3 separate regions of the Homo sapiens genome follow, and all the other regions are linked to region 1. Evidence: fine-mapped expression QTL. A gene starts in region 1. Each other region holds a variant in brackets. All regions are shown on one strand. Distances are between the middles of the regions.

Evidence for each region. PIP is the estimated chance that this variant, and not a neighbour inherited with it, causes the effect.
Region 2: its variant is the best candidate, but not a certain one, in a credible set for the expression of INTS6 in whole blood (TOPMed, PIP 0.87).
Region 3: its variant is the best candidate, but not a certain one, in a credible set for the expression of INTS6 in whole blood (TOPMed, PIP 0.81).

Annotation. Positions count from the first base shown.
Region 1 is chr13:51,447,264-51,457,356 of GRCh38, forward strand. It overlaps INTS6 (integrator complex subunit 6), which reads right to left and starts at 5,773. Exons shown (of 18, transcript NM_012141.3): 1 at 5,152-5,773; 2 at 4,715-4,792; 3 at 3,762-3,911. The coding sequence starts at 5,262. INTS6-AS1 (INTS6 antisense RNA 1) reads left to right here and starts at 6,082. Exons shown (of 2, transcript NR_103812.1): 1 at 6,082-6,155; 2 at 6,740-7,453. RefSeq lists silencers at 4,309-4,358, 4,419-4,578, 4,649-4,788, 4,799-4,918, 4,929-5,198 and 3 more and an enhancer at 5,759-5,808.
Region 2 is chr13:51,495,881-51,505,973 of GRCh38, forward strand. It overlaps the pseudogene SNRPGP11. Among named protein-coding and RNA genes, the nearest start is that of INTS6-AS1, 48 kb to the left of the region's middle. RefSeq lists an enhancer at 6,620-6,769. The variant A/G (reference allele first, on the strand shown) is at 4,966.
Region 3 is chr13:51,896,943-51,907,035 of GRCh38, forward strand. It overlaps a transcript of TMEM272 not described here. Among named protein-coding and RNA genes, the nearest start is that of CCDC70, 40 kb to the left of the region's middle. The variant C/A (reference allele first, on the strand shown) is at 5,996.

The DNA.
Region 1 (10,093 bases):
TACTTCACCTGCCAGCCTTCAAAAAGAAGCCTGTATTTCACACTACCTATTAAATGGGTACTATTTAGGTAAAGGGAAAAAAAAGTAGTATTAGAACTATAACTGTATTATCTCCTAAGTTTACAAAATAGACCTTTATGCTCAAAAATAAAATTGGTTAAAATTCTTTTCCCTGAGAATCATTAAATTTGATATTGTACGAAAGCCACCATTTTTCAATGAGGTAAACATTCACCATAGAAAATCCTCAAAAAATTAAGCACATATTTTATCTCCTTTTAAGATATCTGTCAAGGATTGTCTTCACCAAGGGCACATAGTAGGAAAGGTGCCATTCTAACTCCTGGAACAATTTAATCAGTACTAACATACTTCAGGTAGCAGGGGTGTGGAATCAGGTCAGTAACAAAAACGGACTTGCAGGCCAGAGTAAAGATATATTGGCTAATCTTAACTAACATAATTTACTGAAAAAAAAAAAAAAAAAAAAAAAAGACAATGTTGAAAATATCGGGCCGGGTGCTGTGGCTCACGCCTGTAATCCTAGCACTTTGGGAGGCCAAGGTGGGCAGATCACCTGAGTTCAGGAGTTCGAGACCAGCCTGACCAACATAGAGAAACCCAGTCTCTACTAAAAATACAAAATTAACCAGGCATGGTGGCTCAAGCCTGTAATCCCAGCTGCTCAGGAGGCTGAAGCATGAGAATGGCTTGAACCCAGGAGGAGGAGGCTGCGGTGAGCCGAGATCGCGCCACTGCACTCCAGCCTCGGCAACAAGAGAGAAACTCTGTCTCAAAAAAAATATACATATATATTGATGGAAAACAGGATGACCTGTAACAATAAGAAAATTAACTCATCTACATATAAAACTTTAATCAGACCTCTCACATTTTATACATTTCCTAATTTTAGATATTAAGGCTGCTTCAGACTTTCAGCAGGTCTCAAAGGATCAGCATTATTTGAAACTCTGTTGAACACACGTGAAAAACTTATGTATCAAATTTATCTGCAATGATATGCAACTTAAAGTACTGCTATAAAGGAAAAGATTGACTAAAGGCTATACATTGCTCCATTACTGTAGAAATATCAGTAAATGGTACTGATTATCAAAATTAAATATTTATAACAATGTCTGTAGGCATGGAATTTTTTAGTGGGATACCCAAAGTGCTTGAGGAAAACATTCACTAAGAACCATTCTTTTTTCTCAGTTACTTAACCTTACTAATGCCCTGCAAATTCTGATAGCATCCTAGCTAATAATTCAAAGATGTTTTATCTGTAGGTATGTTAACTAAGTTAACAAATGCAATATAGATTTAATAGTCTTGTAATTAGTTATGAAAAATCATATATGTGCATATATGTGGGAGAATGGTGGATATCTACATAAATATACAAATATATATATTAACCCAGACATTTAAGAAAGTAATTCAGAACATTAAAGTTTTTAGATGTTCTATAAAATATATACGTTCTATCTTCCACCTAATCTTTTCTCATTTCCTTCAACTACTAACGTTACATACAAGTATTTAGTACTGTGAACACCACAGATCCTAGTATAGAGCAGGAAAGGGGAAATACTTATGTAAAGACATTGAAGTTACAAAATAAAAGTATTCCACAGCAAACAGGCAGATACAAAGTACTTTTACAAAGAAGAAAACACATGAACAATATTCAGTATTAAATATTTGAGACATCCAAAATTCCTAATCATTTATCCTTGTTGTGAATAGAAAACATGAAATGTTTAAATCAGATAGTTTTATGATGAAAAAAATCTTCTGGAAGAATGTTTTCTTCCAATTCAATACTCTTTACTCAAATTATCATTTTCATTTGAAAACAGTGGCTTATTTTAATGCTAGTGTCATTTTTAATGTGCCAATTCAAGACATAAGCATTAATATTATGCTTTGCAATCTTTGCTGATTCATCAGAATAAGTGAGAAGCATCATCCCTCTCTGTTATTGAATTAATAAATCCTGACATGCAAAAACATCCCAATCTCCAGGTTCTTCTCTTGGTCAAAGTGGTAACAGCACAGGACCACCTTTCCCGCAAACTTTTGGTAAGCCTTATAGACAAGAACTAAAGTGTTCTCTGGGGGCAGATATCAACTGGGAAAAGGAAAATACAGGTTTAAATTACAAATGTCCTCAGCCTCTCCATGACAAGCAGTTTTTCGAAGGAAGCAATCTTTAAGAAGTATTTTTAATAGGTAATAGGAGGTGAATATGTCCAAATGCCTTGACCACTTATGAAATGTGATGCAGAAAAAGAGGAAACTAATAGTTCTGCCATACACTAACAACATGACAACCAAATAAAGGTAACCAAATAATGGCAAGTTTTAAATATCTCTTTGAACTCAAAGAGGTAAGGATGAAAACCTTAAGCAGTAAGACTGTGTTGCACTACATATCACAAAGGAATATAAAAGAGAAGGAAATCCACTACTATTTTACAGAAACAAACCAAAAAGTTCATTGCAAATCTACCTAAATTATTAAAAGTTGCAAAATAAAAGCAGCAGAGATGGGAAAAACATAAAAGTATTAATGTGGTAAGAAAGTACATATTTACCTAACTAAACGTTGGAAGTTCAATTTGGTAAGCTCACTCTGAATTTCAGTGTACATTTTAAATGTTATAGAACTAAATTCAGTTATTTCCAAAGACACTTAAGCACTGAAGTTATCCCTAAGAAGCTTAAAATTTCCTAAAACAGAAACAAGTCAATTTCCTTCAATAGGAAGCAAATAAAAGTTGTAGTCACAGAAAGAATTTCCCTGAAATGTACGAAACTCACAAAACTAGGGACTGTGGGACTTGGGAAAATACAACATATACCCAATATATAATTAGGAATAGTGCTTTTCACTACAACATAAGAACTGAGCTCCTTGGAAATAATATTCCTTTGTTACATGTAACATTATACATTGTTCAGTATCTTTTATTTCCAGGGCAATAATATCATAAAATGTTACAATAGACCACCTTGCATTATTCCTTAGTGAATTATTGTTGATTTAAAGCTCCTCTCATCCTCAAATACATGAAAGTAAGTGCAATAAAAGGACTTGTGGGGGTTAAGAAACGAAGGGTTCTTTCATATTTTCCAGCAGTCTTTTTTTCCAAGGGTTTGGAGTTTAAATCAAAACTCTGGGCCTGAAATTTAATTCAGAGTTCTTCCTGCAATAGTTGTTAACTGTGTATGCTTCAAAAGAAAACTTAAATGTTCTCAGCCAGTGACTGTACTCCAGTGAAAAACTTCTTACCTTTCAGAATAGTTATACAACATGGTCACATTAAACCCTGATGCAACAAACAGATTAATTTCCTCTAACATCTTTACTAATATAGAAACGAAGAACACGAACTAGTGTCTCTAAGCCACTATAATAGTTGCACATACAACATGAGTGTGGTGTGGTAGGATGCTTTTCCTTTTAGGTCTTTACTGAACTTTCAAGGGATTAAAACCAATGTATGTCAACTTTATAGCAAAAGTTTCAGATTCTAATCCTGAATACCAATGCATTTTAGAGGGGGAAAAAATGAGGGATGTAAAATATATATAGTAGGGTAAGAGTTTTGCCTTTGAACAATGTGCATATTCTATTTTAATTTGGAATGTTTTATACTTGCATTTCATGTTATGTAGTTTTTGGACTGGACTGTGTTTTTCCACAAAATGAAAAATCAACTATTTTGCCACCTTATTATTCAACCTACCTGCCCATAGTTGTCTATGCCAGTTACTAATCTATTTAAATTTAATAAATCAAAAGCTGTCCTTAGGGATTGGCCAAGAGTCGTAAGTCCTTCAGCCTGAAGGTTTTTCAATTCATTCATAAACGTTGCATGGTTTTCTTTCCATCCAGCCTGAAAAGAAAAATGTAAGATTTTTTTTTTTCATTTTTTAAAGCCATGTACACAGAGCCGTTATAATCTGACGTTCACCAAGTAGCAGCTTCACTTTTGGTTGGTTTGGCTTGGTTAACGTGTTAATACTGTACCGCTGCTGAGGAAACTCTCTTCCAAAGGTGGCCCAGGAATAACCCAGCTTCCTCTCTAGGTTTTGGTAGTTAACTGCCTTAATACTTTATAACTTCACTGACAAATTTACTACCTAATCTAATACCCAAAATTTGGGTATGTGAAGGTACTAGTGGAAGCAGATGGGAGCCGGACTTAGGAAGTTAACCTGCAGCTGTCCCACCGGCCCTCTTAGGACGAATCTGACAAGACCAATCCTGGCAGCCCCGCATCTGGCTTCCGGGCCGGCCGGGCCGATTCCCCTTTAATGCAAACCGGGGCTGTGCGCGGCCGGGCCCGGCTGTCACTCCGGCTAACTTGAATAAATATCCCCCACAGTTCATTGCTGCCGCTCACGCCGCGGAGGGGAAATGTCGGCCATGTTGATAGCAGCGCCGCCGCCGCCGCCGCCGCCGCCGCTGCCGGGCCGGGCCGGGAGGGGACGGCGGTGGCCCCGCGACTCCGCGCCGCGCTAGGACGCTGCCGAGCGGGGGAGGGGGTGGGAGCCCGCAGGGAAGAGACCTCAGCGGCTGGGAGCGCAGCGGGTGGGGGAGGGGAGCATAATGAAGGGTGAATGGGGGGGCGGGGAGGGCGAGCGAGGAAGGAACAGGGAAGGGAAGGGAGGAAAGGGGGAGGGCGAGGGCTGTTACCTTGATAGCATAGGGCGGCTCTTCGAAAGTGACCAGCATATACCTGTCTCCTCTGCTGGCAGGGTCCCGGGCACGGAGCTGCGGGACGGGAGGAGGAACAGGGCGGGCGACAGGGAAGCACAGAGGCGAGGTTACGAGGCGGAGAAGGGGCGCCCAGCGGCCCCGCCGCCCCCACAGTACCGCACACGCAGCGGCCACCCCTCCACGCCGTCCCCCACACACAGATCGCTCCCCACACACCGCCCGGGGCCGGAGCCCGGGCCCCGGCCGAACCCGGCTCGCAGCGCCCGCCCGCCCGCGCGGTGGGGGAGGGGGTCCCCGAGCCCGGCAGCTCCCGCAGTCAGGTCCCCGACACCCCCGCCCCGGCCGCCCTCCCCCACCCTGCCGCCCGCGGGCCGCCGGGCCGGGGTCGCCGCCCGGGCTCGGTCAGTCGGTACCTTCATGAAGGTCTCTACCGCGCCTTTGGCCGTGTCCAGGTAGGTGGTGCCCAGATGGCTGCGCTGGTTCATAGAGGCAGACGTGTCTATCAGGAACAGTAAGATGGGCATAGTGCTGGCCGGGGACACCGGGGCCCGAGGTGGTGGAGAAAGAGGAGATGGTAGAGGTGGAGGCGCCGGTGGCGGCGACCGCCGCTACGCGGGGCGGGGGAGCACGGCCCCCGGGAGGAAAACACTGTCTGGGTCTTTCCTCCGGCTGCGGGGAGTTTCTCCCCCGATAGTTGAGAGGAAACTCCCCAGACCCAGTGCTCCCCGTCGTACCCCCGCCTCCGCCTCCTCCTGCCTGCCTGCCCGCTGGGGCGGGCGCCCAGCCGTCTGTCTGTCGGTTCGTCCCCCCCGCCTCGGGGGTCCCGTCCCCGCTCCCGGCCCCTGTGTGTGTCCCAGCGGGAGACGGGCCTGGCTCCCCACCCCACCCCCGGTACAGGAGTGGGGACCTGGGAGCTGGCGAAGAGGGGAGTGGGCTGAGGGAAGATTGGCCCTGGGGCTGTTGGGAGAAGTTTCAGGGACTCCCTCCGCACCCCGGCGGTGTCACCACTTTCTCAGCCCCTCTCGCTACTGAAGCGCTTTTCTCTCTCACACTCCGGTTTTAACTCGGGCAGGGGCTGCGGAGGCTCCGCCCCTGACACGTCCCCGAGCCACGTGATACACCGCCTCGCCGTTCTACTGGTCAGGCCCTATCCTTTCATTAGCATATTTAAACAGCTCAGGGGCGGGGGAAGCTTGTAGGCCGGCTCCGGGGACAGTTATTGAGCACGCGCAGAGGCGGGGCGTCGGGTGCGCGCGAGCGGGCGGGCGGGCCGACCCGGAGGCGGGCTTCGGGAAGGGGCGGGGCCGGACTGCGGAAGGACCGCGAGGTGGGGGCGGGGGCCGCGTCCGCGCGCGCGGGGCGGCCGCGGCGGTGAGCCTGCGCGTCAGGGCCGCCGGCCTCTCCTTGGCTGTTGGAGGTGATAGGGGTCGAGGGGAGGGAAAAAGGGGCTGGCGTCAGCCGCCCCTGTGAGGTGGCCGTAGCGTGGACGAGTAAGAAGGGTTGAGTAAAGTGGACAAACACCTGGTTAGGAGAAGAGGGCAGGCCCGCAGCCGCCCTCCGGAGGAGGACTCGGGGCCTCGCGGGCGCCGGAGGAGGTTCCTGGGCCTCGGAGGGCCGCCCCGGCGCGCCGCCCCGGCGCGAGCGGGCGCGGGCGGGGGAGGGGAAGTGAGAGGTTGTTTATGACCGGGGACTAATCTCCTCCGCGAGTCCCAGCGCTCCCTCTGGGGAGTGCGGTTGAGGGGCTGTCCTCGCACGGAGCCTCGCTCGGCCTCGGGGGAGCCACGAGAGGTGGGAGTTGGACCCGCAGCGGGCCAGGAGCCCTGTCATTGGAGGACCCGCCAAAAAGGAAGCAAACCCTCTTTTTCTTTATCCAACCCCAAATAGCTAGGGCCTAGGGGGAAGACTCACATATCGATAAATGGTTTGTTGCCCGTTTTATTCTCTGGGAAATACAACTGATCTTACCAAAGAAATAACCTGTCTCTTGCCGTGTTTACTTAGAGCCATAGAATACCTGTTTCAGAGCTGAAGGGGACCTGAGCCCATGATAATCCATTACCTCGTGAGAAAGCGGAAAAACTGACTTCAGCTTGCCCAGATGGCGCAGAGAATGGGTTTCCCGTAACCCCGCCTGTGTCTTTCCTTCAGCCTCGTCCCAAATGCCGTGGGAGGGAAGGCACTCTCTGTCAAGCTGCTGTCACCTTACCTGAAGTAAGGAGTCCACGCCTGCATGTCCGAGGAAAACAGTTTTCTCAAACACATTAGTTGAAAAACTGAAGACGCTGCCTAAAATACAAGCTGAGTTAGAGACAGCCCTTGTAAGACTAGGTAGGTATTTACAGGGCCTCTCCCACTAGCTTTGTTTTTCCAGAGTTTGTTCTTTATCCGGAAATTCTTAATTTGCCTACTGATCATTTAAAGAAAGGGTTCTATTAACATTGACACAGAAGAGACACTTTGTGGCACTTTTTAAAAATCTGAGTCTCGTGACTTGGTATAACTTCTGAAACTTACTGTTAATTTATAGCAGAGCTATTTGAGTAATATGCTCTTCTATGAGTATGAACAATAGAAGAAGTGTGATTTTTAAAGTGATTTGGACTACAAAATAAGAGCATGGAATATAGGCTTTACAGCCAGTACTTGCTGAGGATGTACTGTGTATTAGGTGTGGTGCATATAAAAAATAAATAAAATGTGGTCCCTGTCTTCAAAGAGCTTATGTTTTCTAGGAAAATGCTACATATTACTAGCTACTCCAAGGCAGAAAGTTGTTAGACACCAAATCAGAAAAAATAAAAATGTATTACCTTGGGGTGATGCAGGAACATTTTCCAAGGTTTCAGCTTTGCCTTAGTGTTTCTTAAACGGATCATAGATCTGAAGATAAGAATCAGAGTTCTATGGCAAAATACGAGTTATTTTACCAGTTATAAAGATGAAATTTGTCTTTCAACTTGATCATTTGCATAATTTTATACAATTGCTCTTTAGTTCTTTATATTTGTGCTTTTCAAACTGGTCTGTGGACCCCAGCCTACTGAAAACATTCTCTAGGATCATAAGAATTTATTTTAGGAGTCTGTTCATTATTCAGTTTTAAGAAACACTGTCTTAAAGGACTGGTAGGATTTGGATATGGGTAAAGGAAGGGGAAGCTGCTAGTGAAAAGATCTTCCCGACATTGAAAATGTGAAGAAAGGAAGTTAAGACAGCATTGCTGAGGGCTTCCTGAGGAACAGTGAAGTTCAGCTAGGTTGGAGCAACAGGTGCATGTAGAATAGTACAAGATCTAGAAACACAGGTGAGATCTAGACAGTAGAGGGCCTTTATTCCAATCTATGGAGGTTTTTTTTCCCCTATAAATTGGAGATTTATTTTTCAATTGCGTTGCTAAGTAGAAGCAATGTTTGAAAGAAATCAAACTAGACTACTGAAGATTAACATGCGTTCACAATGACCTTACCTATTATTACAGTTATTCGAAATCATTTTTCAGTGGAGCCATTGTCACAGGATCCTTGGAGTGTCACTTTTCCAGCTGGAAAAATGGCACCTCTGCCCGAATTTTGGTCGGGCTCATTCTGCCCACCAGTCCCAGCAGGCTGCACTCTGCTCATACTACGGCCTGGATCCCACACCTGCCAAGTGCAAGCCAGGTGCGGAGCAGCGAGGGGTGTGTGAGCGAGCAAGCATGGGGTCCGGCCACTGTATACAGCCCGGCATGCCAGCTGCAGGAGGGCGGGCAGCTCTAGGGGCTGGCCCCTTGCAAGGCTGTGGCTGGTCCAGGTGTACTGCAAGCAGCTTCCACAGCTGGCACCAGGGAATGCAGTGGCACCTGGAAGCTTGGAGATGCCAGGAGCTGCAGAGCCCCAAAGAGGTTGTCACAGGGAGCTCCTAGGTCTAGGCTTCCTAAAGGGCCACAGCTCTTCTCTCCTCTCTTCCCCCTTCTCTTTCCTTTCTTCTTCTCTTCTTCTCTCTTCTCTTGTTGTGTTGCCCACAACATGGCAAGCAAGGGGCATATTTCAGCCCGTTTGTGTTACAGCTCTTTCAGCCATGCCATTTGGCAGGTCCCGAGTTATTGTCCCACATCCAGGAAGAATGAGGTATGTGGACAAGTGGAGGGTGAGCAAGGCAAAGAGGTGCTTTGTTGAGTGACAGAACAGCTCAGAGGAGACCTGAGGGCAATGAGTAGCTTCTTTCTGCAGGCAGGTCATCCCAATAAGTGTCCAGCTCTCAGCAGAGAGGAGACCCACAATGGGTAGTTCCTCTCAGCAGGCAGGTGGTCCTGTCATCTGCTCAGCTCTCCACAGAGGAGACCCACAGTGTCCATAGACCCACAGTGGGTAGCTCCTGTCTGCAAGCAGGTCATCTCATTGTCTGCCCAAGTCTGGTTCACTCCAGGGTTTTTATGGGCTTCTGAGAGGAAGAAGTGTGTGCTGATTGGTCCATGGCGCAGCCATGGGCAGGCCTGGAGAAAGCACCATAAGTTCTCACTCCGTTGCATGGAACTGGCAGCCTGACCCCTGGCGTTACCGGGGACCCACCCCTTTCCGCCCAGGAGCCTGTGTGGATCCTGCTGCCATTAACCTGCCATCCACAGTGCCCATGGCGCCCAGGTTGTTCATGCTAAGTGGTACCTACAGGCCTTCACTGAGATGTCCTTATTCCCGCCTCGGCCTGCCTCCCTCCTGTGCTCATCAGCACCCAAAGTCCAGAGGGGACTGAGGCAGCATGGGGCTTGCGTGTCAATGCTGCCCCAAGCACGTGCACACCTGGTCGGGTCGTGACAGCACCCAGGCTTAGTCACAACTTTGCTCTGAAATCAGAGCGGGTGCTGGGAGCGGGGAGAGGCCAGGCAGTGGGAGCAGGCACTTCCAAGCCTGCGGGAGCAGGGAGCTTCCTGGTCCCCTGAGAGTGGGTCTTCTCTCTGTGGAGAGCTGAGAAGATGACGGGATGACTTGCCTGCTGAGAGGAACTACCCACTGTGGGTCTCCTCTCTGCTAAGAGCTGGACACTTATTGGGATGACTTGCCTGCAGAAAGAAGCTACCCATTGCCCTCAGGTCTCCTCTGAGCTGTTCTGTCGCTCAGCAAAGCACCTCTTTGCCTTGCTTACCCTCCACTTGTCCGGAGATGAATGGGTCCACAACCATGACTGGGTGGCTGCAGCTGCACTCAGGAGGGCAGGACTCCCACTCTTCCAACTTGGAAGCGGGCAGGGCTTCTGCCTGTTCCCAGCTCTTGCTGGCTCCATAGAGCACCGCCGCGGCTGTAGCCGTGCCTCCCCGATTATAGCCAGCGTCAGGGCAGCAGCCACTTCAGACGGGCTGCTGCCATCATCACCATCATGGCT
Region 2 (10,093 bases), 49 kb after region 1:
TGTTTTGTTTTTTGACTGTTACAAAAGTTTATTTACAAAAAGTTTAATATGAAAATACACATGACCCAATATTTACATCATAGCAAAACAGGCCCTTTGGAGAGGGGACATAAATGTCTCTCCTGAACACAGCCATTATATATCCTTGTTCCAAGATTTCTAACAAGATGACACCATTTCCTTATATCACCACCTTTCCAGTATTGCTCTGTTGCCCACCAGCTGCCATCTCCACACATTCATCCATTACAAGATTCATTAAGGGATCGAATCCCCTACAATATTCCTTGGACATGTCTGCCACCACTTAATTTCAGTGATAACGTCTTGCCCATAAATAATTTCAACATGGAAAGGTAAGCTTTGCTCATGGTGTCTACTCCATGGACTCACAGAGGTCTTGAAACAGAATTCCCCTTACTGTCATTCTATCACATATACTCCTAGTCTATCAACTGTTGCTGCAGGAAGTCACAAAAAAAGTATTGATTGGATCATTCCATATCTGAGTTACCCACTATTGCTTGCCAATACTTGTAAATTCATATTTTTTTCTGCTTCTCAAATTCCCCGTAACAGCTGAACCAAAACTTTATATATTCTTAAACCCCATCCCCATTCCCACATTCCCAAAAGATGATCTCACCTCTCAGTTTTTTATGTTTGTTTAGAAGATTAAGACTATCTTTTTGTATTTGTCTTTTCCATCTCTACAATTGCCTATTTTCACCATTTAAGATGATACTTATGATGACCCTCTATTGTTAAGAAATGTTCCATATTTTTCCAACTCTTAACAAATTCACTTATGTCCATCACAGTCTTTCATGCCTTGTATGGAACATTTTTCCAAAATTTGCCTATACTTTATTACATATTTACTCTTTTTCATTGCCCAAAATCCTACTTGGTTCTCCTGTATTTTAAAAACAAAATGAAAAAATTTTTTTCAGCCCTGACAACCACTCAATCTACTATTCTCTCTCCCTATTTTTTACACAACATATTTCTAGGAGAAAAGATCCATTAATCTCTATTAGCTTCCTTGAGTTTCTCACTTCATGGTACACTGTCGTCTCCACCTCTGGCATGGTATTGACTTTCTGCTGTACTACAATAGACTTTTCTCAGCCTCACCTTCTGTGACCTCTTCCCAGAATGTTACGTGCCTCCCCTTGATGTGATTTCTGCTTTCTCCGTCCTTTCTAGCCTTTGATATGCATTCCTGCTACAGCACCTAACCCCTTCTAAAGGGTGTTACAGTATCTGCTGCTTGTCTGATCTGTCCCATTAGACAGGAGGCCATGTATAGCAGTGACTTACACAGAGAAGGCAATCTGTACATATTTGATGAACAACATTCAACATTTTAGAAATTTATAAGATTTTAAGTAACAACGAAGCCACATAGTAAAAATATGTCTGGGTACCCAGCCTGCCTTTTTCCAATTTTCCCTCTCCTTGCTCCTCCTCACTTTCTTCTTCACATTAAAAATAGCTTTTATAGCTGATAAAATTTATGTGAGAAACGAAGCTGAAGCCCAGCTTAACCTCCCTCAACTTTCTCTTTTTCTTTCTGAGGTAGAATACATTTATTATTCATTAAATCATATTTGTGGGCATGTGTGTGTGTGTGTGTATACACATGTGATACATTCTTATAAAGGATTCTCACCAAACAAACTAAAACATAAAGCCTCCTGCCACTGACAGTTTGACAGGTATGTTTTAAGTTATTTCTTCTATGCAATTAGTACCTTCAAAAAAAAATGCAAGCCAAGATTTGCTATAAATAATCCTGATCAGGATAATCAAACACTGTAGTCATGCAACTTCCTATTTTTCCTTCAGTTTGATTTATATCTGCCATGTTCTTTAGATACAGCTACTACTGTTTATTGCTGTTAATTCCTTGACACCAAATCTTTCTGAAGGGTGTGTATCATTTTCCATTTTTCCCAAATGTACGTTACAAATCTTTCCTCTAAGTGGGGAAATTTATAGCAAACAAAAAATGTTGCATCTGTTCAAATTGTCAAAGAATTTCTGAAAGAATGGAAGTGAGTAAGTTTAGCTGAGCAACAACACCAAAATGATAAATTCTGGGGAAAAATAATGACTTGGGAAAATGCAGATTACAATATATGGACAAAGTCTCAAAATGAGCTCTGTGACATGAATGCAGTATATAATTCGTTTTCAATCATAAATGGTTCATTTGCATAAGCACTTATTAAGTATCCAGCACTGTTCTAAGCACATTGCATGGATGATGGGATTCAATCTTCACTCCATCACTAAGAGGCAGATACTGTCATTATTCACATTTTATCGATGAGAAAACTGTGCCCAAGTCACACTATTTGTAAGTAGTAGATCAAGTATTCAAACTCAGATCTGTCTAACTTGAAAGCTCACTATTTCATTTCTTCAACAAATATTAATTGAACACCTACTCTGAGCCAGACATTGAGAAACAAACAGACAATGGTCACTGTCCACATGGAGTTTACAATCTAACAATGGAGAGAGGCATTAATCAGTTAGTAAAACAAATCATTATTTGGATTAAAATTGTCATACTCACCACAGGCAAAGGAATATTATGTGATCTATTCCAAACCTCTAGACAGTGACTGTTAGAGGTCCAATAAATTCGGATGAATATTGAATAAGATTGCTTTGAAAGTAAAATGTGGTGGACTTAACCCTGTCTTGGTGGAGGCCAGGGAAGGCTTCCTCAGAAGGTGACATTTAAGCTGAGACTTGAAAGATTATTTGAGCCGACAGGAGGTAGGAAAAGCTTGCAGGGAAAGGGTGTTTTAAGCTGTGTGCCTACAGTGCTTGGCAAGGAAGAACCTTGGCAGATAGAAGGATAGAAAGTAGACCAGTAAAGTGGAAGCATAGATGGCAGGTGAGCATGAGTACATAGGGCGGCCCAAGACAAACTGAGGAGGCAAGAAAGCTATGGTCACCCATAGGTACATGAGCCATATAAAGATTCTCATCTTAATTTTAAAAGCAATATGTTGCCAGGAAAGGGTTTTAATAAGAAGAATGTCAGCAACAGATTTCCACTGATCACTGTAGCTAGAGTGCAGTCATTGACGAAATCAGTTACCAGTTGCAGCAGTTCAGACTTGGACAAGGATGCCAGCAGCAGAGAATAAGAGAAGTGAACAGATGAGTCTTGCTTAGGAGTTGAGTGTCTAGATATGAAGGGTAAGACAGAGTGATCAGTCAGGGTGCCTGTATTAGTTTTCTATTGCTGTGTAACAAGTTACTCCAAATGTAGCAACTTCAAACAACATCTATTATCTCACACAGTGTCTTCAAAGGTCAAGAAACTGGGAGCAGCTTACCTAGTTCTGGCTCAGTCTTTCAAGAGGTTGCAGTCAGCCTGTTGGCAGGTGTTGTAGTCATCTAAGTTCGGACTAGGGTTGGAGGAGCTGCTTTCAGTCTCGCTCACATGGTTGTTGCAGACCTTAGTTCCTTACCATGTGGGTCTCTCCATGGGACTGCTTGACACAGAAGCTGGCTTCCCCAAAGTGAGAATTCCAGAGAGACTCTGAGACAGGGAGGTGGTGGTAGGGAATGGGGAGAGAGAGGGGGTGAGGAGATAGAGAGAGAGAGAGAGAGAGAGAATGTGAACAAGAAGGAAGCTGCAGTGATTTTTAGGATCTAATCTCAGAAGTAACGCATCATCACTTCTGCCATATTCTACTGGTCACATTGACCAAGTCTGATACATTATGGGAGAGGACTACACAAGTTCATGAGTACCAGGAAAGATATCACTAGGGGCCACCTTGGAGGCTAGTTACCACCACCATGTGATGGCACTTTCAAATTAGGGTAATTTGTGAAATTTCTCATGCACACGTGAGTGGATGTGTATGAACAGTTTGTTTTCTTACAAAGGGACAATTTACAAAGATATGTGCAGGGATTAGGCAGACCACAAAGGGATCATGCAAGTTCCTAGAGCTCGAAGGAGAAAGAATTGTGGAGTGCAGGGCCACCTTGAGAGGAGTCATGCTGGGAGACACACACACAGCTATGTGCTGGAGCCACCTCATAGGACACATGAGAGCTGACTGCATCTTTTCCCAACTTGTATTCAATGATGTCACACTGGTAGCCTAAAATCGGTCATGGTGGGAATACGGTACCATGGTAATCAGCAAATACTGTAAACCAGAACTTTTTTTTTTTTTTTTGCAGAAAGCCAGTTAAACATTTACTAGCACACCACTAGGCATAGACAGACTGAAGCAACCTCTTAAGGTGGTAGCTAAGAGAACTCACACCCAGACCCTACTCTCTCAAGGCAGAGGGAGGACGAAACTCAACCAGGAAGCCAGAGAACACAGGAGCCACTCTACATGCTCTACACAAACCATCCCCTGGAAAAGATAGCAGGGTACAGACTAGAACCGCATAGTAAGGCTACCTATCATGAATGCACTCCTGCCTGGGTGACAGAATGGCTCTCCAGTGTCTTCTTCAAGCAAGTGTGTCGACAGTGATTCAAGTAACTGAAAGAGAAACCAACAAAGTATCATTTGTCGCAATATCTCAATTATTCTCTTTTAACCATCCTTATCACTCTTGATTTTCCACATCAGTGGGGGGAACTTTGGCAGACAATTGAAAATATCACGTTTTCCGGTCAGGTCAGTGAATGAGTTTTGCTTTGTTTTGGTTTTTATAAACAATGGAAACTGACCCTGGCTAAGTTAAGAGAGAAGAGAAAGATGTGGGACAGCTCCCAGAATGAAAAAACAACCTGAAGAGTGAGACTCAGAAAGAGCAGCCCTGGGGTAGAAAGTGGTTGATGATCTCTTCAGAGCATCATTGTTGAAATCCTGGTCCTTTTTTTTTTTTTTTTTTTTTTTTTTTTTACACAGTCCTTGACTTACCCTGCTCAAGATACACTAGTCTAGAATAAAATTTGATTGGCCA[A/G]CTCTCTTGGCAAGAAGCAAGTTTCCTTAACTAGCAGTCCCACTGGGACTGCCACAGTGAGGAGCCATTAGTTCCCAACAAGCAACTCACAGTGCTCTTAGAAAGAGGAACAGGAGCTGGGAAGCCAAGGAGCAGCAAACGTCCTCAACAATCTGGGACACGACCTTGCTCCAAGGTCCCTCCTAAGTTGCAGGTGGAGGGGAGCAACATTCAGACCAGTAAACTGGAAGTAATTGAGAATTAGTTGTTCTTTTAAAATCTTCAGGCATAATGTCAATAATTCAGAATGCCATAGAATCTGACATTAGAAGAGTTAATGTTTAAAAATCAAAGGTATTAACTAAACATTGGAACTAAAATAAATAGGAAACTGGAAGAAAAGCTGAAATGTGCTCCTGTATAAAAGGAAAATCAAAGCCACTGTTGTGCCATATCTGATGACCACATAAGTATGTAAGCATTGTGAGTTTGTATGAGACTTTCTGGTACACATTGGTTGTAAATATGAGGTCAGAGAAAATTCTTGGCTTCGGCAGGACACAGTGGCTCAAGCCTAGGAGGCCAAGGTGGGCGGATCACATGAGGTCAGGAGTTCGAGACCAGCCCAGCCAACATGGTGAAACCCCGTCTCTACTAAAAAAACAAAAATTAGCCAGGCATGGTGGTGCATGCCTGTAATCCCAGCTACTCAGGAGGCTGAGGTATGAGAATCGCTTGAACCCGGGAGGCGGAGGTTGCAGTGAGTCGAGATTGCACCACTGCACTCCAGCCTGGGTGACAGAGTGAGGCTCTGAGAAAGAAGGAAAGGAAGGAAGGAAAGGAAGGAAGGAAGGAAGGAAGGAAGGAAGGAAGGAAGGAAGGAAGGAAGGAAGGAAGGAAGGAAGGAAATTCTTGGCCTTTAGGGCTGTGGGTCCCCCTGGTCTGCATTGTTCTGCTCTCTCCACTCCTCCAAGCCCTGCTGTCCTTCAAGACTCAGCCCACATGTTTTCCCTCTGAGTCTTCCTGGACCAAATCCAGCCCAATCCATGATTAGTGTTTGTCATCTATGCCTTGTACTTGGCACTTTTCAAATGTCCCCTTAGCTTGTTACACACATCTTAGGTATGAGTCCTGATCTTCATTTAAGGTTCAAGAATATTGGAGGCAGGATCTCTGTCTGACAATGATAAGTTGGCTGTTGGAGGTTTACTACAACTTTATAAAAACTTGATCTTTCTTTCTTTTTCTAGTTCCTCTTCTTCCTAACCTCAAAAATATGAACCTTCACAAACGCTTGCCCTTCTTCTCTCTTTTTTCTACCTCACAATGTTATGTGTTAAAGATTGATTAATGAGAGTATACATATGAAAGCCCAGGAAGGACTTAGGTGCAGATGTTTTAATTTTGTATGATGCCCTTCCCACTACAAGGTCCCCCAAGCACATGCACATCCCTGTAATGCTTACTAATATTGATAGTATTTGCCTCATGCTACATGTACTTTCTCAATGATCTCATCTACTTGGGTAGTTTCACTGTGATCTTTTAGGGGACAACTCCCCTTCTGCCTCCAGCTGACTCATCTCCCAGCCCCAGGCCTGTATTTCTGATCAGTTGTTCTGTATCCATCTCAGACTCAGCACATCCTGAATTGAACTTATCCTTCCATACAAGCCTAGTCCTTTTCTTCATGGAAGCACTGGATCTCAAGTCATAACTGTGCTAGATGTGAGTCATACTTGAAGTCTCAGAAACATTTCAGCTCCAGAATCCCCCTCTCACCCTCCCCTACCCAATATTGGTTGCCAAATCCTGGTTGAGCCTCCCAGTCTTCCTAACGTTCTATTTTTTCTGTATTCCCATGTCCGACCTTCATTAAATTTCAACTCCGCTCCCCCACAACCATAGATCCAAGCTTTTAGGCCTCCTGGTGTTACATGTCAACAAGCTATCCACAATTTGTAGCACCAACCAAGCTTTCTGGCCTCATCTCTTCTGTAATCCTCAAATCCAGTACCATCTCCTTATTTCACATTCCCAGAATACACCCTCCACCATCACACAATTAACTTGGCTGAAGCAATTTCCTTTGTCTTGAGTGGTCTTGCCACAAGGATCTTTATAATCCTGCATCCTCCAAGACACCTTAGAAATTTTACCAACTAAAATTAATTATTCCTTCTAATAGTAATAACTGCCCCTTATAGAGAACTGAATATGTGCCAGGGCCTTGACATACATCATCACATTTAATCCAGACCACAACCCAGCGAGTTAGTTATTATAGGTCCACAATCCCTTATCTAAAGCCATGAGGCCAGTTGTGCTTTCAAATTTAAAATGCCTTGTTTTTCAGAAGGGTAATACACTGGTATGTATCTCGGTTTCCCCACCTGTAAAATGGAGGATAAATACAAGCACAGTACGTCCCTTATGGGATTGTCGTGAAACAGGCAAGGTGTCCCTTCTAGAAGACCCAAGTGAAATTCCCATTCAAATGCATTTTTTGGGGTCTATTTGTTTGACCGTGATTTTGGCTTTTGAATAATGTGTTACTGGGGAAATGAATGGTTCTAACTTTACAGTTTCCTAGATGTAGCAGGAAGGTGATTTGAGCCTTCAGTTTCATTGCATGTTGTGTTTCTTTTTTTTTTTTTTTTTTTTGCAACTGTTACTTCTTTCTGCTACTTAGCCTAACCCCCCCCACCCTCCCTCCCCCCCTCCCCCCCCTCCCCACCATACTCAGCGTTTTCTATCAAAAGCCCAGGCCTCCTGCCACTGCAGTTAGAACCCTTTCTTCACTTTTCTGGCCTATTTTATTATTAATTCCTAACTTTCTCTGGCAAAAGAAAAATTATCTAGACAATGATTCGCTTCTTTGACAAAACCACTTCATGACAATTATACTAAGTTTTAGGAATTCAATGTAAGCATCACGAATACATTTTTTCCTTTTATATCACCATGGGTCTGGATGCAGAAGAGACCAAGAATTTAGCACTGGAAGAGACCTTGAATCTCAGCTAGCACATATGACCTGGGTTTGTCTAATTATCTATTATATTTGAGGAAATGAAGGAGCAGGAAGGTCTAGTGACCTGCTCAAGCTTGCATGACTAGTTAGCAAGACAACACTGGCTAGATCCTAGCTGATTTCACCCTGCATCTGCTTTCTGTCACTATTGATTAGTTTGTTTTTCCCAAAATTTCAAATAGAATCATACGGTGTGTGTTTTTTGTATCTGGCTTCTTTCACTCAGCATAATGTTTTCGAGATTCATCCACATGGTTGCATATATTGGAAGAATATGCTTTTTTATTGTTGAGTAATTTTTTTTGTAAAGACGTACCACAATTTATTTAGCCGTTCTTCTACTGATGGACATTCAGGTTATTTCCAGGTTTTGGCTATTATAAATAAAGCTGCTATGAACATTCTTGTATTAATATATGGTGTTTTGTGAACATATATTTTTATTTCCCTTGGGTAAGAAATACTTATGAGTAAGTTTGATGGGCCATAGGGTGGGCGCACATTTTGTTTTATAAGAAATTGGTGGTTGCTTTACATCCTCACCCACAGATGGGGTTGCCAGTTTTTTAAATTTTAGTTTTTCTAATGGACACGAAGTTATATCTTATTGTGATTTGGATTTACATTTTCTTGATGATTAAGTTGCATTTCCCTGATGGATTTTCATGCACTTACCAGCCATTCCCCGTACCTTCCTTTGTGAGGTGTTGGTTCAAATCTTTTGCCTATTTAATTGGGTTGTTTTTCTTCTTAATAGTGAGTGGTAAAAGTTTGTTTTATATTCTCAATAAAGTCCTTTGTCAAATATATGTGTTATAAATATATTTTTCCAGTCTGTGGTTTGCATTTTTGTATTTTAAAAGAAGTCATTAGAAGAGCTAATTAAAAACAAAATTTAGGCCAGGTGCAGTGGCTCACACCTGTAATCCCAGCACTTTGGGAGGCCGAGGCAGGCGGATCATGAGGTCAGGAGATCGAGACCATCCTGGCTAACACGGTGAAACCCCGTCTCTACTAAAAATACAAAAAATTAGCTGGGCGTGGTGGCGGGCACCTGTAGTCCCAGCTACTTGGGAGGCTGAGGCAGATGAATGGTGTGAACCTGGGAGGTGGAGCTTGCAGTGAGATGAGATTGCACCACTGCACTCCAGCCTGGGCGACAGAGCAAGACTCTGTAAAAAAAAAGAAAAAAAATTTTAATGAAATCAAATTTGTCATTATTTTCTTGTATGGATTGTGCTTTTAAAATTTCATTTTACTTTATTTTATTATACGTGTTCAGTATTTCTGTCATAGCATGAATCATGCTTTTCTTGTATCTTATCAAAAACATCTTTTTCTTTGCATACTCCACTGCCACAAAGATTTTCTCCCATTTTTTCCAGAAGTTTTATCATTTTAGCTTTCATATTTATGTCTTTAATCCACTTTGAGTAAATTTTTATGTATGGTGTTAGATAGGGTTGAGGTTCATTTTTTTTCATGTAGATTTCTAGTTGCTTTGGTACCATTTTTGAAAAAACTATACTTTCCCATTGAATTATATTTGTACCATTGTTGAATATCAGTTATCATAGGTGTATGTGTTTACTTATGTATTCTATTTTATTATGCTGCTCTACATGCCCATTGTTTGGACAAATCACACTGTCTTGATCACTATAGCTTCTTGAAATCAGGTAGAGTAATTTCTGCAACTGTTTCTTTTGCAAAATTATTTTGACTATTCTTGGTTCTTTTAAAATCCATTTGTCAGTTTTTACAAAAAGTCTGATATACCATAAATATGATATATCACGGCATTTATTTAGACCTTTTTAAAATTCAGCAGTCTTCTATATTTTTCAGTCTATAGGTTTCGTGTATATTTAATTTTCCATAAGTATTTCATTTTTAATGTTACCATAAACAGAATTCTAATTTCATTTTCCAGTTGTTCATTGCTTGTTATATTGTTTATTTTCTTGTATAGAAATACAATGGACTTTTGTATATTAACTTTATATCTCTTCTCTTTTTAATTTGAGACAGGGACTTGCTATGTTGCCCAAGCTTACCTCGAACTTCTAGGTGCCAGTAATTCTCCTGTCTCAGCCTCTTAAGTAGCTGGGATTA
Region 3 (10,093 bases), 450 kb after region 1:
ACAGGAGTTAGTCTGCCGCAGTTCCATGTACACCGTCAGAAGACACAAGACTCCTGAGTCAGAAACAAAGCACAGCAAGCAGCATAAACTTCATGTTCAGGTTGGTTCCCTTTGTTCTCTGGCACCACAGGGTGATGCAGAGTGGCCCAGGTGAATACAGAGCACACATTGGGTTCATCACAGCAGAGGAGCCCCAAGTTTCAGAAACCCAAATCTTTTGAAAGGCTGAAAGGACTGCAGGTAAACCTGCCCAACTTTTACACCATAGTAAGACATTGTCTTTTTTTTATTTTTTGGAGACAGGGTCTTGCTGTGGTGCCATCATGACTCACTGTAGCCCTGACCTAGGCTCAAGCAACCATCCTATCTCAGCCTCCAAAGTAGCTGGGACCACACATGCATGCCACCATGTCTGGCTAATTTTTTTTTTTTTTTTTTTTTTTTTTTTTTTTGTAGAGATGGAGTCTCATTATGTTGCCCAGGCTGATCTTGAACTCCTGGGCTCAAGTGACCTGCCTGCCTCAGACTTCCAAAGTGCTGGGATTACAGGCATGAGCCACTGTGCCTGGCCAAAATTATCTTTATTATCATACACAGTAAGAAAATCTGTCTTCCCTGGAGGGGGACTCTTATTTTTGTCTGCCAAGATGATTTCCTTTATAATCTTCTTGAAAAAAATAGTTGAAAAGATAACTAGAACAAGGCTGGGCGCAGTGGCTCATGCCTGTAGTCCCAGTACTTTGGGAGGCCGAGGTGGGTATATCACCTGAGGTCAGGAGTTGGAGACCAGCCTGGCCAACATGGTTAAACTCTGTCTCTACTGAAAATACAAAAATTAGCCAGGCATGGTGGTGCGTGCCTGTAATCCCAGCTACTCAGGAGGCTGAGGCAAGAAAATCACTTGAACCCAGGAGGCGGAGGTTGCAGTGAGCCAAGATCATGCCATTGCACTACAGCCTGGGTGACAGGGTGAGACTCCATCTCAAAAAAAAAAAAAAAGGGCTGGGCGCGGTGGCTCACGCCTGTAATTCCAGCACTTTGGGAGGCTGAGGTGGGTGGATCACAAGGTCAAGAGATTGAGACCATCCTGGCCAACATGGTGAAACCCCATCTCTACTAAAAATACAAAAATTAGCCAGGCTTGGTGGCGTGCACCTGTAGTCCCAGTTACTGGCTGAGGCAGGAGAATCGCTTGAACCTGGGAGGCAGAGGCTGCAGTAAGCAGAGACTGTGGCACTACACTCCAGTCTGGTAACAGAGCGAGACTCCATCTCAAAAATAAATAAATAAATAAATAAAATAAAATAAAAAGATAATTAGAACAAAAGTGCAGTGCCCCTGCTCATAAACATGCAGAAATACAAGAAACTCCTGGGGATTTTTCTCCTGACACACTCCTGGTTAAGAAGCACTAATGCAGGATATTGTTCTATATCTACATGCTTTTCAGTTTTCAAAGAACTAATTGAGAAATGAGCTCCTTATAATAGAGAGGATGGCTGCCTCATGGATGGAGAAATGGGCAACTGACTTATGGTGTGATGGCAGCTACCACTACATAAATATCATGCATTTTCTGAATGTTTTACAAAACAAACATCAGATTCACATTTGCAAAAGTAGGAGTAATGTAAGGGTTAAACTAAACAATATATGCAAAATGTTGGCACATACTAGATAATAAATGTTAGTTCTCTCTCCTCTTCTGCCCTTTGCCTACTTCACAGCCTATCCTGGCTGCACAAAGCCAACAAGAATGGCTTAGACTTATATCTTTTTCCTGCTAAGACGGCACTGTTGGAAGGAGTCCTTTGGGTCCTTTAAATGTGTTCCAGGAGAGGCACCCAGCATGCTAAAAAGGTAATAAAAATGACTGTGCCACCGGCAACCTGTTATCTAGGATTTCCTGATCTACCACTCACTTGATTCTACCTTGTACCTGCCTGTCATTCCTCCTCACTTTCTCTGCCTCAATCCCTGCTCCAATCTCACAGTACTAAACCTGTTCTCATCCACTGCTGATCACTGCTGGCCTTGTCAAGGCCACCTTCTAGAGACTGTCTAGACTGCATGTCTTACTCCCACAGCTCTTACTTATTAATTCATTTAGTAAGAATAATGGTAAGTAAATGAAACTATCTCTATTCACAGATGATATGATCTCTTATCTGGAAAATCCACAAAACACGCTTTCAGAACCAATGAACAAGTACAGTAAAGTTGCAGGATATGAGGTCAATATATAAAAAATCGATTGTATTTCTATATACTAGCGATGAATAATCTGAAGATGAAATCAAGGAAACAATTTACAATAGCATCTAGAAGAAAAAATACTTGAGATAAACAACATAGGTGCAAGGCTTCATAATCACACTGTATCCCATAAATATATACAGTTATTATGTGTCAATTAAAAACAGTAATAAAAGCCAGAAAAGGGTATAGCGACTGAAAGGTTTTTCCAGTGTACTTCTAATCAGCAACATTTGGCACTTGCAAAGAAAATGCAAGTCTTATACACTAAAAATTGTAAGATATCATGAAAGAAATTAAAGAAGGCCTAAATAAGTGGAAAGACATGCCATGTTCATGAATCAGAAGACTTAAGTATTAAGACGGCAATATTTCCCAAATTGATGAACAGATTCAACACTATCCTCTCAAAAATGTCATCTGGCTTCTATGTAGAAATTGACAAACTGACCCTAAAGTTAATATAAAAATGCAAGGGATCCAGAATAGCCGAAACAATCTTACAACAAAACTGGGGGACTCAAGTTTCTCTATTTCAGATCTTAATGCAAAGCTATAGTAATTAAGACCGCATGGCACTAGAAAAGGCTAGACATGTAGCTTAATGGAATAGAACTACATTTTTATTAAATTATGAATAGAAATAAATCTTTACTTTTATGGACAATTGATTTAGACAAGCCTAGGCAATCATATGGGAGATGAACAGTCTTTTCAATAAGTGGTGCTGGGACAACTGGATATTCACCTATAAAAGAATGAAGTTGGACTCCTATTACAAACCACATACAAAAATTAACTCAATATGGGTCATAGTCTTACATGCAAGAGTTAAAACTATGGAACTCTTAGGAGAAAACCTGGGAATAAATCTTTATACCTTGAATTAGGCAATGGTTTCTTAGACACTGAAATCACAGGCAAAAAAAGAAAAAAAATGTAAATCGGACTTCTTCAAAATAAAAATCTTTTGTGGTTTAAAGCACATAATCAAGAAAGTGAAAAGACAGCCACAAAATGGGAGAAGATACTTGCAAGTCACAGATCTGATAAGGGACTGGAGTCCAGAATAAATTAACTCTTACAAATCAACAAAAAAAGGACAACCCAATTTAAAAATAAGCAAATGAGTTAAATAGACATTTCTCCAAAGAGGATATACAAATGACCATGGAAAGATGCTCAACACTAATCATCAAGGAAATACAAATCAAAACCACAATGACATACCACTTCATATGCACTGAAATAAAAAAGACAGACAATAACAGTGTTGGTGAAGATGTGGAGAAATTGGAACTCTCATGCATCATTGATGGGATCAGAAAAAAGATGCAGCCCATGTGTCAGTTCTTCAATGTTAATGTAAAGATACAGTTACCATAATAGCCTAGCAATTCCACTCCCAGGTGTCTCTCCAAGAGAAATGAAATATAAGTCCACACAAAGACTTGTATGCAAATGTTCATGTCAGCATTATTCATAGTAGCCAAAAAAAAATGGAAACAACCCAAGTATCCATCAACGAATGAGTGGACAAACAAAATGTGATATATCCATAAAATGGATTATTATCCAGCAATAAAAATGAATGATGTATTACTGATACATGCTACAACACAGGTGAACTTTTAAATCATTATGCTAAGTATAAGAAGCCAGACACAAAAAGCCACACGTTTTATGGTTCCATTTATAGGAAATGCTCAGAATAGACAATTCTGTAGAGACAAAAAGTAGATACAAGGTTGCCAGGAAAGAGAAAGGCATGACTCCTAATGAGTACAGAGTTTTGTGGGAGAGAAGGGTGGTGAAAATGTTCTAAAATGTTAAAGTGGTGATGGTTGCACAATTCTATGAATATACCAAAAACCACTGAATTATAAACTTTAGAGGGGTGACATCTATGACGTGAATTATATCTCAATAAAACTTTTCTTTTTTTTTCAAGTGAGGCCCAGCCTTCTCATATTTGTGATGTTAATGTCCACACAACCTCATCTGTACTCACAAAATTGTGAAGGAAGAGAACCTGGGTCCACACACACTTTAATGAAGCACGGTTCCTGAGTGTGGCTGCATCTGGTCCAGCTAGAAAGTTGTGCCTGGCATTTGACCTGCTAAAAAGCCAAGTTCCACATGGTCTAGAGTTCAATGCAGAAATATCCCTGGTACATATAAAGAAACCACTCCTGCTAGAGGGGTGGCGCCCGGTGGAGCTGCCTGTGCCCCACCCGCCCTCCCATGCCTCACACCCCTCTCAGTTGTCAGTTGCCCCTGGAACAGGTACTTCTGGAAATTCATATAGCCAAGGAAAGTCAAAAATGAAGAAGAATCCAACAAAAACACAGAAATACATCAGTTGACTTGGGTCAATGGCATTACTAACTACCCCCGGAGAAGCCTGGACACATCTTCAGTGTCTCTATTTTCCTTTCTGCCCTCCCCCAGTGCCCACTCCATCCCAAGTCCCTTTACAAAGCTCTGTGACAGTGGCTCTCCTAAGTATCTAGAATCTACCTGCTCTCCTAAGGCTCACTGCCTCCCCGAGTTCAGGCTTTATCAGCCTCCTCCCACAAACACGTAGCCTCCTCCCTGCTTTCCCTACCTCCAGCCCAGCCTAGCTACAATCCTCTGGGCAGAAGCCCCATTGGGTGTGTTTACATTCCAAATTTGTGCAGAAAATCCACATAGCTTCATTGGGTTACCCAGTCCAGAGCAAAAACGCCAGGCCTTTCTCACTCTGTCATCCAAGCTCAAAATCCAAGAGAGGAGAGTTTCAAGGAGGAGGAGCTTGGGAAGTTATCCACTGGGGTCAAGCTCCATGGAAAGGTCATGTAATAAAAAAACTGAAAAGAATCACTTGGGATGTGGTATCAGGGGGGTTACTGCAGACCTCTGGAGAAGCCATTTCAGGGGTGAGGTCAGAAGCCAACGTGCATTGGATGAAAGAATAAATATAGGTGGATTCTCAGTTTTGTAAGATGTAAAAATCAAGAGAAGCAAAATGAAAAAAAGCACTGATGTTGAAGACAGTTTCCCAGTTGCCTTGTTACATTTTCAGTGTGGGACTGAAGGGGTGGTAGGCATTACTTCAACAGAATCACAACACATTTTGCCCTTCTCACGGCCTGGCGCCTGGAAAAGCTTTGGGAATTATTAGCTGCTGCTATTGATGTTGAGGGCACCCACATGCCTTTAGAACCAGAATCTAAAATGTTCAGCCTCTCAATGTCTAAAATGAACTGCTGCAATGTTGCAGATTTAAAAATTAGAGGAAAGTTATTTTATTAAATACATTTTAGAATATAGGTTTTATAGAAAGTATGTTATCATAGCTACTCTAGAAGCTGAACTTGGGAGAGTCCCATGGTTAGAGGGACTGAGCATTCTGCCAACAACCAGCCCCACCTTGCCAGCCAGGCCAGTGAGCCACCCCAGAAGCAAGGCCACCTGCCTCAGTCAAGCCTGCAGGTCACTTGCAGCCCTGATGGACAGTCTGTGGGCAACCTCCTGAGAAACCCAAACGGGAACCATTCTGCTAAGCTGCTCCCAAATCTCTGACACACACAGACTGTGAAATAACAAATATTCATTGTCCGTTTAAGGCACTAAGTTTTGGAGTAATTTATTTTGAGAAACAGATAACTAACACAGCCCTGACAGCAATTGGTTATTGGCTATGTGATGCCGAGGGAGTGGATAACTTCCTAGCATGGTGGCTTCTGCTCTGCAAGGG[C/A]AATTCTTCAGGAAGCAGGTGGCTGCGGTGAGCAATACTCAAAGCTGGGAGATGAGTGCATCCGCCTGGTAAAGGGGCCCTGGGCAAGGCACCAATAGCATCCACTGGGGGTGTTGATTATAATCTAGTACCTAAATATAGTTTTGGTTTTGACAGGTCAGTTTGTACACAAACACAATTGTGGAAATATTTTGCATTTCTTTTGAAGGTCTCACCTCCTTAGTGTGTGTATCCAGGAGGTACACAACTAGAACTGGATGCACGAGGCAGCAGCAGTGGGAAGCAGCAAGGTGATCTAGAGACACTTTATTTATTACTCACTAAGTCCCAAAAAGTGCTTGCAAATATAGAAAGTGCAGGTAGAGATGATCAATAATAACTAACTATAGTGTCTTCCCTTCATTGCCATTGAGGTCTTGGTTTCCAATAAGACACTTCATAACTCATTCCTAAGCATGCTGTTGGAAATGGGAGGGAGGGAGAGGTGGCACACCAACGAGGTCAGGGAGGGAAGAGAGACTCTACGTCAGATGACGATGTCTCAGTTGTCACTTCAGGTTCTGGCTGCTCTCTCCACTGTACAAGGAAAGCCACCAAATAGAGGGCAAACTGCTCCCCCTACTCTCCCCAGAACACCCCTTTTTCCTATCCCTAGGTGTAAGTGCAGGAGACCCTGAGCATCTAATGGAGTCAGATGCTAAGTTAAACACCCAGAAGTCCCGGTTTCTATGGGGCCAGAGGAAAAGGCAGAGTGCTATTTCCAGACTTCAGTGGCAACCGAAAAATGAAAAAGACTCGTGTGGGTGTGGGGCAAAGGCTGCCCCAGAATGCCCAAACTTTAGCTTCAATAAACCTATCATAGCCATAATGAGGCAGTGCTGGGGCAGAAAAGAGAACCATATAGGGTCTTCTGCTCTGGCAGAATCATACCTGGTTGTGCAACCAAAGTGTCTTCTCACACCTGCCTCCTATGACACCATTTGGGTTTCTCCAACAGTCTTCCACGTGTGTGTGTGTGTGTGTGTGTGTGTGTGTTTAGAAAGAAGCATCTGGTCACCAGAAACTCAAAGGCCAATAACTCTTAACAAAAATACATTCACACTGGACAAGTGAACACTCAATCTAACACACAGCACCTGTGGCCCTGGGATGCTAGGCATGAGGTGGTTTTCTGCAGTGCTGCTTCTCATTCACCATCAGCATCAGAATCAGCATGAGCTTAATGACTGCTTGTTGCCTGCTTTGCAGTGATGATGACAATGATGGTAATATTAATGATGATGATGATGATGATGTTAATGAGCCCATGGACCAGATTTAGTGCTGCTGCCTATTTTGAAATTAAGAAATACATGATGACAGAAACTGAATTCAGGTAGCACTGGGCTAAAGGCAGATGACTGATGACTGCTTGGTGGCTAGCTTATATGCAATTCTTATGATGACCCTAAGGTAATTGTTGTTGATGATGATGATAATGATAATTGATGATCATGATCATGATGAGTCAGATCTGGGAAAACATCACCTGGCCTTCAGCAGCTAATGCATAGTAGTAATGAATAATTTTCTCTGGGCTTGAATAGGAATTCATGGTATGGACGTGGAAAAGAAGGAGGCTCTAGATCAAAAGAGAAAAGATAAGCATGGTCCGTTTTCAAGATATTGTGAAAAGTACAGGTTGAGCAATCCAAAAATCTGAAATGCTCAAAATTCTGCAACTTTTTGAGTATCAATATGATGCTCAAAGGTCATGCTCAAAGGAAATGCTCATTGGAGCATTTTAGATTTTAGATTTTCAGTTTGGGAATGCTCAACCAGCAAATATAATGCAAATATTCCAAAATCCTAAATCTAAAACACTTCTGGCTCCAAGCATTTCAATTAAGAAACATTCATTCTGTACTGATGTGGAGGCTGAAAACCTTGAATTTTATTTACCAGGTAGGGGAACATCATCATTAGTAGTGTTTCTTAACCTCATTAGTACTGACATTTTGGAATAGATAATTGCTGTGGGAGTCTGTTCTGTGTGCTGTGGGGTGTTTAACAGCATCCCTGCCCTCCAACCACTTGACGCCAGTAGCACACCTCCAGTAGTTACTGTGTAAAATATCTGTGGACATTACCAAATGCTCCTGGGGGAGGTCAAAAGCACCCTCGTTGAGAAGCATTGAGCTAAGAGAAACAGCAGACAACACGAAGCAGTCAACAGAGAACGGCCCTAAGCAGGAGAAGAAATGTCAGGCTGAAGGCAGTTCGTGCAGGGAGAGAGACTGTCCTCCCTCTTCCAGAGAAAAGAGCTGTCACGACACTGGACGAGGGCCCAGAGGCAGGACTTCAGAGCAACAACCTCAGAGAGCCATGATTCCAGAGCAGTCTCAGTGCCTGCTGTCACCACCTCGGACACGGCAGGTCCCACTCACCTCGGCTAGAGCTGCACCTGACTCACCCAGTCAGGGAGATGCCACTGTCTTCCTGAGGCCCTCTCATTTGGAGAGCACCTTCTTCAGAGCAACCCAAGGGAAGCCGGAGTTCCTCTTCAGCAGGGCTTTGAGATGCTTTCTAGCATGCCAGGTCCCTCCCTTCACAAAGGAAACACCCAGAGAGCAGGGAGGCAAGGGGCAAGCCCTCCCTCGCAGCGGCGCGGTCGACCCAAGCAGGAAGTGGAATCCTGCAGGGAAGCTGCCCAGAGCCCCTCTGCCTGCCACAGGTCCCTGTAAAAATGGTAGAATAAGTGCTAGGAAATGCAAATTGTAATCAAGGGCCATGCGACACTTAAAAAACTACACCTTGGTTTCCAAAGAAACAGAATGCTATTATGAGAGGCTCTGCCTCATTAGCCTCGGTTAATGTCAGCGTGTGTCTGAGGACAATGCCCCATGGTTCTATGATGGAGAGCAACTCAGCTGTGATGCCGCCTTCTCTTCTTCAATCGGATTGAGAATGAAGGCTTCACCTGTGGCTCTGAAGCAGACAGGTAGGAGTCTCACTGAGACACCTAGACGCAGAACAAATGACTCACCAGGATGAAGCTCCACCACTGCACAGCAGAGGAACGTGCACTGTACCCAGTGATGACTTGGGGCTCGGGCTCTGGGAGCCAGTGTGGCTCCTTACAGGCTGTGTGTTCTGGAGGGACTGAAATCTTCTCCTAGCAAATGGTGGACCAGGCTGGGGTCCCTGGAGCAAAGAGCAGCATGCAGGGCTGGGCTGTACCTGGGCATGTCAGTACCCCCTGCAAAGGTTAACTTAGCCCGCTAAGGGGACTCCCTGAGGCATCTAATTCAAAGGGTGAAATAATCTATTGAGTGCAGCCACACAGAATGAGCAGTTATGGGGGAGAGAAGGGATTCACTGAAACAGGGCAGGCTTTGTAGGGCTCCCATAGCTCCACCCTTGGGCCCAGGGCAACTCCTAGGGCCCCAAGCCAATTTTGAGCCCCCAGCAAGACAGGGAGCCCCTAGAGCTTCAGTATTCTCATATGAAAAACTAGGATAATGAGGCCTAACCACAGGTGACTGTGAGAACAAGGAAGAACATATGAGAAAGTGCTTCATGGGCCCTAAAGTGGGGAGTAAATGTTGGTTGTTATTGGCCTAATTGCATATGCTTTACAAATGGTACTTTCATTGTAATAAAGCATCTGCATTTCTACAGGAGAAGTTCTAGAGTTATTTTAACTCCTGATAAGAAAATAATATGTCCATGAGAGACCCTGACCCTGAGGCATTCAAACAGTTTGCAAACAGGCCTGGGCTCCCTGCCAGCACAGGCAGGCACTCCCCGGGATCCCAGGCCCTAGGGCAGTTTCAGAGACAGCAACCCAAAGCCATGCCAACTCTCCTCTAGAAGTACAAACAGTCCCTGCAGGCTCCTGGACAAACATCCAACTGACCCTTGATGCTGGGGACCAACAGTGAAAGGGAAGCTATACCCTGACTCCACATTAGCAAAGACGAATGAGCTGGAACTCACTTCTTTCTGCTCTTCCTATGTGATCTGGTCTGTTCAGAAACGCCTTTGCAGTGCTCTGAAGCCACATCTTCTGTAGCAGGTTGTTTGCAAAAACAACTGCAATGACCCTCCCCTCCCACA